2 linked regions of the Homo sapiens genome follow. The protein of the gene in region 2 purifies or fractionates together with the protein of the main gene of each other region. This does not show direct contact. Each region holds a gene or a part of one and is shown on either strand. Other genes may lie near its edges. The genes, in order: PHLPP2 and DNAAF11.

Region 1 (3,918 bases), on a different chromosome or scaffold from region 2:
CCTTCTAAATCTTAGAAAAGTCAAGGAAGACTCCAGGAAGTTTTGTTTGTTTTGAGACACGATCTCGCTCTGTCACCCAGCCTGGACTACAGTGGCGTGATCATAGCCCACGGCAGCTTCGAACTCCTGACCTCAAGTGATCCTAAAGCCTCAGCCTTCAGAGTAGCTGGGACTACATGCACATGCCACCACACCCAGCTAATTTTTTGTATGTTTTTAAGAGATGGAGTCTTGCTATGTTGCCCAGGCTGGTCTTGAATTTCTGGACTCAAGCAATCCTCCTGCTTGGGCCTTCCAAAGTGCTGGGATTACAAGCATGAGCCACCACACCAGGCCTGATTTTTCTTCTGTGAGGATTTTTAACAGTCATTTTTAGTGCATATATATTTACCTTAGATTATAAATTCCTTAAGGAACTTTACATTATCAAAACATATATGCGGTCGGGCGCAGTGGCTCACACCTGTAATCCCAGCACTTTGGGAGGCCAAGGCAGGCGGATCACAAGGTCAGGAGTTCGAGACCAGCCTGGCCAACATAGTGAAACCCCGTCTCTACTAAAAATACAAAAACATTAGCTGGGCGTGGTGGTGCACGCCTGAAATCCCAAATACTTGGGAGGCTGAGGCAAGGAAATCACTTGAACCTGGGAGGCGGAGGCCACAGTGAGCCGAGATTGCGCCACTGCAATCCAGCCTGGGTGACAGTGCAAGACTCTATCTCAAAAAAAAAAAAAACAAAACACATGCCTGTAATCCCAGCACTTCAGGAGGCCAAGGAGGGAGGATCACTTGAGGTCAGGGGTTCAAGACCAGCCTGGGCAACATAGTGAAACCGCGTCTCAAAAAAAATTAAAATAAAATAAAGATTAAAACAACAACAACAAAATATACACGCTGTTGGTCATCATTTACCTCAAAGGATCTATCTCCTGTCTACATGATACATTCCGCCCTAAGAAGATAAACTGCTAAGTTACAACTTCAGTATATATCATTCTCTTAAACCTGACCGATGGGCACTTAAAAGGCCTGGATATTAAGCAAAGCAAAGGCTTACAGCAACAATCTAGATGGACTGTTTAGCTGTTATTAGCCACTGCTGAATTGCCTAGTGCTTCCTTCTTCTCAAGAATGTCTTGCTCCACTGCTTAACACATCAGTTAACTGCTGGAAAAACCTTCCTAGGAGCCAGGACTGCAGATGACACGGTCCTCTGAGGTGCTTTCAACTTTTAGAATCACCATTCTACTGGAATTGCTAGGTTGAGAAAATTATTTTCCCCTTACTCTTATAGAATTGTTATCACAAATTTATTTGAAAGGGAACACAATGACAATTACCTCTTACATCAAACAAGTATACAAAGAGCGTATTTTAGATTTAAAGATCTTTCTAGCCGGGCGCAGTGGCTCATGCCTGTAATCCCAGCACTTTGGGAGGCTGAGGCGGGCAGGATCACCTGAGGTCAGGAGCTCGAGACCAGCCTGGCCAACGTAGCAAAACCCCGTCTCTATTAAAAATACAGAAGAATTACCCGGGGGTGGTGGCACGCATGCCTGTAATCCCAGCTACCCTGGAGGCTGAGGCATGAGAATCGCTTGAACACAGTAGGTGGAGACTGCAGTGAGCGGAGATCACGCCACTGTACTCCAGCGTGGGCTACACAATGAGGCTATCTCTCTAAAAAGTATCTTTTTTAATTTTTTTGGCATTAATTGTTTATACATACTTTGCTCAACACCCAAAACTATTCTTGAAAAAAAAAAAAGAATCTCATGACACACACCGACATTAGTTGTAACTTCGTATCTTCTATAAGCTATGGGCCTGGGTGACACAAGGAGACTCTGTCTTTAAAAAAAAAAAAAATCTTTCTAGAAGGCAAAAGTCTTGAGGGTAAGCCATGAATTAAATACCCACTGCTTCAATTTTACACTTTTGTTTGTTTGTTTTTTTGGAGACAGCATCTCCCTCTGTTGCCCAGGCTGGAGTGCCGTGGCACGATCTCGGCTCACCGCAACCTCCACCGCCCGGGTTCAAGCGATTTTCCTGCCTCAGGCTCCTGAGTAGCTGGGATTACAGGTGCACAACACCATGCCCAGCTAATTTTTTTTTTTTTTTTTTTTTTTTGAGACGGAGTGTCGCTGTTGTCCAGGCTGCAGTGCAGTGGCACAATCTCGGCTCACTGCAGGCTCCGCCCCCCGGGGTTCATGCCATTCTCCTGCCTCAGCCTCCCGAGTAGCTGGGACTACAGGCGCCCACCACCTCGCCTGGCTAATTTTTTGTATTTTTAGTAGAGACGGGGTTTCACTGTGTTAGCCAGGATGGTCTCGATCTCCTGACCTCGTGATCCACCAGCCTCGGCCTCCCAAAGTGCTGGGATTACAGGCGTGAGCCACCGCGCCTGGCCACGCCCAGCTAATTTTTAAAAATATTTTTAGCAGAGACGGGGTTTCACTATGTTGGCCAGGCTGGTCTTGAACTCTTGGCCTCAAATGATCCACCCGCCTCGGCCTCCCAAAGTGTTGGGATTATAGTAGTTAGCCACTGTGCCCAGCCCAGTTTTATACTTTTAACTCTAAAAGTGTTCCATGAGGGCAATGATCAGTTCAAAGGTGATATACTATTACACACTCACATACAATAATAAGATATACATGGTATAAACAGGGTCTGGTAAAGTAACTCTCCATATTCAGTTAGTTCTGCAAGAATGTGAAATACGGCCGGGTGCGGTGGCTCATGCCTGTAATCCCAGCACTTTGGCAGGCTGAGGCAGGCGGATCACCTGAGGCCAGGACTTCAACACCAGCCTGACCAACATAGAGAAACCCTGTCTCTACTAAAAATACAAAATTAGCCAGGCGTAGTGGCACATGCCTGTAATCCCAGCTACACGAGAGGCTGAGGCAGGAGAATCGCTTGAACCCGGGAGGCGGTGAGCCAAGATCGTGCCATTGCACTCCAGCATGGGCAACAAGAGCGAAACTCCACCTCGGAAAAAAAAACAAAAGACGAAAAAAAAAAAAACAATGTGAAATACTCTTAGGTAGAAGATGTTTCTGCATTCAAAACTTTAAAACAATATAGACTCATATCTGGGAATACACACGTTATTAAATATTGTGAAAGCGGTGGGGAGGGATGGGATGAGATAGAGAAAGAATATGTCAGCGCTTTAAAAATGTTTTGGGGCTGGGTGCGGTGGCTCATGCCTGTAATCCCAGCACTTTGGGATGCCGAGGAGGGACAGCCTTTAAGCCCAGGAGTTGAAGGCCAGCCTAGGCAACAAGGTAAGACCTCATCTCTACTAAAAAAACAAAACAAACAAACAAAAAAAAAAACGTGCCTATGATCCCAGCTACTCAGGAAGCTAAGGCAGGAGGATCACTTGAGCCATGATCGCGCCACTGCATTCTAGCCTGGGCAAGAGAGAGGCTCTGCCTCAAAAAAATAATAACAATAATAACGTTTTGGGCTGGGTGCAGTGGCTCATGCCTGTAATTCCAGTGCTTTCGGAGCCCAAGGTTAAGAGGATCACTTGAGGCCAGGAGTTTGAGATCAACATAGCAAGACCCCATCTCTACAAAAATAAAAATAAAAATTAGCCAGGCATGTGCCTATAGTCCTAGCTACTTGAGAGGCTGAGGTACTTGAGCTCAGGAGTTTGAACCTGCAGTGAGCTATGATCACACCACTGCACTCCAGCGTGGGCTACACAATGAAGCTATGTCTCTAAAAAAAAATCTTTTTAAATTTTTTTTGGCATTAATTGTTTATACATACTTTGCTAAACACCCAAAACTGTTCTTGAAAAAAAAAAAATGAATCTCATGACACACACCGACATTAGCTGTAACTTCCTATCTTCTATAAGCTGAGTAAAAAAGTTAATCATTACTAAAAAAAAACCATA
Region 2 (3,918 bases):
GGGGAGACAGTTACAGTCTCCCCATGCCTGGCACATAGTAGGTATTCTATAGATGCTTGTTGAATAAAGGCAGGAAGCAGGCGTGAACGAATGAATTTAACTTTCAAGTAGACACCTATGTGCCCATAAAGATAACCAGGAATTATAGCATAATTCATTTAGACAGAATCATGGGAATGAAAGAGTTTTACTACATAGACTGGAGAAATATTACCACCCCTTAAAATGCACATGCATGGGAATGAGGAATGTTTCCATTTGAGGACTGAACAGGAAGCAGCCAACAGAGCTGAAAAAGAAAGGGTTATACATTCATTAAACACCAGACATAGGGCCTAAAAATGGAAAGGACTTACAAGGATGAAACAGTGATTTGTCTGAAAAACAGTAGAAACGGCAGCTTGGGAAGCTGGAGGAGCAGAGGATATGAAGCTAGCTGGAGAAGAGCTGGGATCTTTGTAAAGGCAGATAACCTGGCAGCAAGCAGGCAGAAGAATTGACAGGAATTCTGTGGAGAGGCACACAGCTGATCTGAGACAGCTTGGTGTGGAGAGGAAGGGACCACACTAAGGCTAGCCCTGGTACACAAGAGCCAAGGTGGAAACAACCCAAATGCCTACCATCTGGTGAACGGATAAACAAAATGTGGTACATCTATGCAATGGAATAGTATTTGGCCATAAAAAGGAAGGAAATTCTGACACGTGCAACAACATGGATGAGGCTTGAAGACATTATGGTAAGTGAAAGAAGCCAGACACAAAGGCCACATGTTGTATGATTCTATTAATATGAAATATCCCAAATAGGCAAATCTATAGAGACAGAAAACAGATTAGTGGTTGCCATGAAGACAGAGAATGGGCAGTGACTGCTTAAGGACCATGGGGTTTCCTTCTGGGGTGATAAACATTTTCTGGAACTAGACAATGGTAATGGTTGTACAATATTGTGAATTTATTAAATGCCATGGTGTTGTCCATTTTGAAATGGTTGAAATGGTCGATTTTAAGTTATGTGTATTTTACCACAATCAAAACAGCAAAGTTGGTTGAAGTCCTGAGGGCTGATGTTCTGGCTCCTTCGGTCCCTGTTCACTTTGACAAGACTCACTCTTGGAAAAGTTACCCCCTCTTGGGTAATAATCCCTCCAACCTCCCAGGGTTACTGAGAGATTAAATAAAATGGGGCACATCAAAAGCCATTAAAAAGAGAAAGGCATTTATTATAATTCATGCATGTAAACATTCATCCATTCATTCATGCATGTCAATGTCATACTCCCATCATCAGTATTTGTTCATTCATTCATTCATTCATTCTTGTGTTTATTGAGCACCTAACAGGTGCCAGGTATTGTTTTAGGTGTGGAGATGTAGAGAGGAAAGAACAAACAAAACAAGCTTCCTGCTCTGACCACAAACTTTTAAGAATACAAGTAAATTTACACTTTGTCAGCAGGAAGTCAAAAAGTAGAAAGAGTGGAAGGAAGTGCTGGGCAGGGGTAGGTACTGCTTTATGTCAGATGGTGGGGCAGAGAGGCCCCTCTAATGAGGTGACATCTGAGCAGAGGCCTGAAGGACACGAGGCAGCAAGCCACAAGGACACCGAGGGTGATACAGGCAGAGGGAAGCACAGGCAAGCAGCCTCTGAGATGGTGCCAGGGGACACTGAGGTCATCAGAAGGATGTATCGGCACAGTGAACCAGGGCCTAAAATCTTCAGGGAATGAGGCAGAGTGACCTGCTGCCTTTAGATGCTTCCACAAAGAAGAGAAGAAGGGGATACAGGCTGAAGGTTTGAGTGTCAAAGCCATGGAGCTTTAGGGAGGAGAAAAGGACAATAGTTTGGGTGTGGTGATGAGGGCAGGCAGGAGGTCTGTGCCACTCCTACCCATGGGTGAGAAAACAGGCAGGATGTGAGAGGGCAGCAGGGAAGAAGGGTCCACTGGTGACAGGGGCTGCTAGGTGTTCCCCCAGGCCTCTGAGATGGGACTGAGGGAGGGGAGCCGATCACCTGATACCTACTACTATAGGAAGGCATTTTAGACAAAAACAGAGGACTATGCCAGCAAAGACAGAGTGGGGTCCTTGTAGTATCAGCATCAGAAAACAGCACAGGTCTGAGAATTATTTAAACTCTGCCTTAGATATTCCTGAGTTCATATCCATGAAATTGTGGCTTTATTTACCTTTCCTTTCATTTTCATGCTTTTAAAAATTATAGTAACTTCTCTGTCTTAACAAATAAGCTTCATTTAACTATAGGTCTAAGTCAATTCCATTTCAATTTTTTCAAACTAAAAAATTACTACTGAGAATGAAAACAGACAGAAATGTCATAAATAAATACGTAGAAAATGTCTTTACCTATAGACAGCAAGGTCCAGGATGATCTGCTTTTCGTTATCTTTCAAAGAGAAGTCAATTCTAAGAATAACACATTTGGTGGGAAAAAAGAGATGTCTTTAGGATACTGTATAGAAAACCCCATCATAAATTCATAAGCAGATTAGATAATAATTCTATAATAATATCCAAAGACAACTTATTTTAGTGGTTGAACAATCAAATATCAACGGTAATTTTAACATTTCAGCAAAACCTACAACATATTAATAAATTATTTGTGTTTACAGTGTTTAAATGTGAGAATCTTAAGGTAAATTACACACAAAAAATTAGCTTTAGTGCAGAGATAGAGACATCTGGTGGCTAAAGTTTTCTTTTCCATCTCATATGAGTTTGCCAGAAGCAAACTAAAACATTGGAATTATTTATGGAGAACTAAAGGTTGCTTTTGCCTCCCCTTTATCCTGCATTCTATTCCTTAAGTTTTAGAGTCCTGTCTTCCTTCTTTTTTCTTGCTATCTTTTTTCTTCTCCTTTCATCGCTGACCTTTCCATTGCCCTGAAAAAGGCTGAGACACTGCTCATTATCTATTACCTCTGTTTTATAGATGAAGAAACAGAGGTTCAAAGAGGTTGGCATAGCTGAATTATAATAAATGCCTTTACACTTTCTCTGCACGAGCCTGGCTAGGCAGGATTTCAAAGCTCCACCATCTTTCAACTGTACCCCGAGGTTGAGTCCTAGGTCTAGCTTCCACACTGAACAACATACTATCAGAATTGCCTGGTCAATTTTCTTTTGAACATTTCAGTTACTGTATTACTCTATAAAACATACAACTCAACAATATTAAAGAACATAAGCTAAACTGTTTAGGAAAATGTGAAGTTAGCGATAGATTTGGCTGTTCGCCCCATTTCTGCTTGTGGCAGGCACTGTCTCATTGCTTTCAATAGTCAGGCCTGTGGGACTTCTTCAGTGTCTCAAATGACCCATGCATTTGTAGAACCTCATCTCAGGAGCCTTTTTATATGCTCCTGCTCTGCCTCGATTGCTTATTACTTGTAAAGTAATTTCAGAGAATTTTCCTATGGCAGAGATTGCTATTTAGTTGCTATCTGCTTCCCCTTTATTCCTAGTGACAGGAACCATGGTTTTAACTAGGGGCATGGCTATGTACAATAAAGGTTGCATTCTCTGGCCTCCCTTGCAGGTGGGTGAGGTCATGTGAGGGACAGTCGTTGTATGGCACTTTCTAAGAATGTCCCTTAAGAAAAGGAGCGTGTATCCTTTCTTCCCTTTTTTCTTCTTTATTTAGCTGAGTAGAACAGAATGTAGGAGGCCAACAGATAAACCATGGAGACTGCTTAATAAGCAATTGCAACTGTCCAAGCAAGAGTTAGTGTCCACTAGTGGTGGTGGTGGGGTCAGTGAGATGTGGCTGGATTCTGATAATATCGAAGGAAGAGTTCATAGGACGCACTGATAAAATGAGGGAGAGAAGAATTAAGGGAGAATCCAAGGTTTCTGGTCTTAGCCAAGGGGTGAATGTGTGTTACTGAGATGG

What was found.
Region 1: the proteins of DNAAF11 (region 2) and PHLPP2 purify together in Homo sapiens (affinity purification with mass spectrometry; 2 studies listed by BioGRID and IntAct, with this or other methods). This does not show direct contact.

Annotation. Positions count from the first base shown.
Region 1 is NC_000016.10:71,717,857-71,721,774, forward strand, and holds part of PHLPP2 (PH domain leucine-rich repeat-containing protein phosphatase 2), read right to left. Parts: intron 1-3,918. UniProt on the Homo sapiens protein: Protein phosphatase involved in regulation of Akt and PKC signaling.
Region 2 is NC_000008.11:132,612,669-132,616,586, forward strand, and holds part of DNAAF11 (dynein axonemal assembly factor 11), read right to left. Parts: intron 2,430-3,918; coding exon 2,370-2,429; intron 509-2,369; exon of another isoform or gene 357-508; intron 1-356. UniProt on the Homo sapiens protein: Involved in dynein arm assembly, is important for expression and transporting outer dynein arm (ODA) proteins from the cytoplasm to the cilia. Acts as a crucial component in the formation and motility of spermatozoal flagella.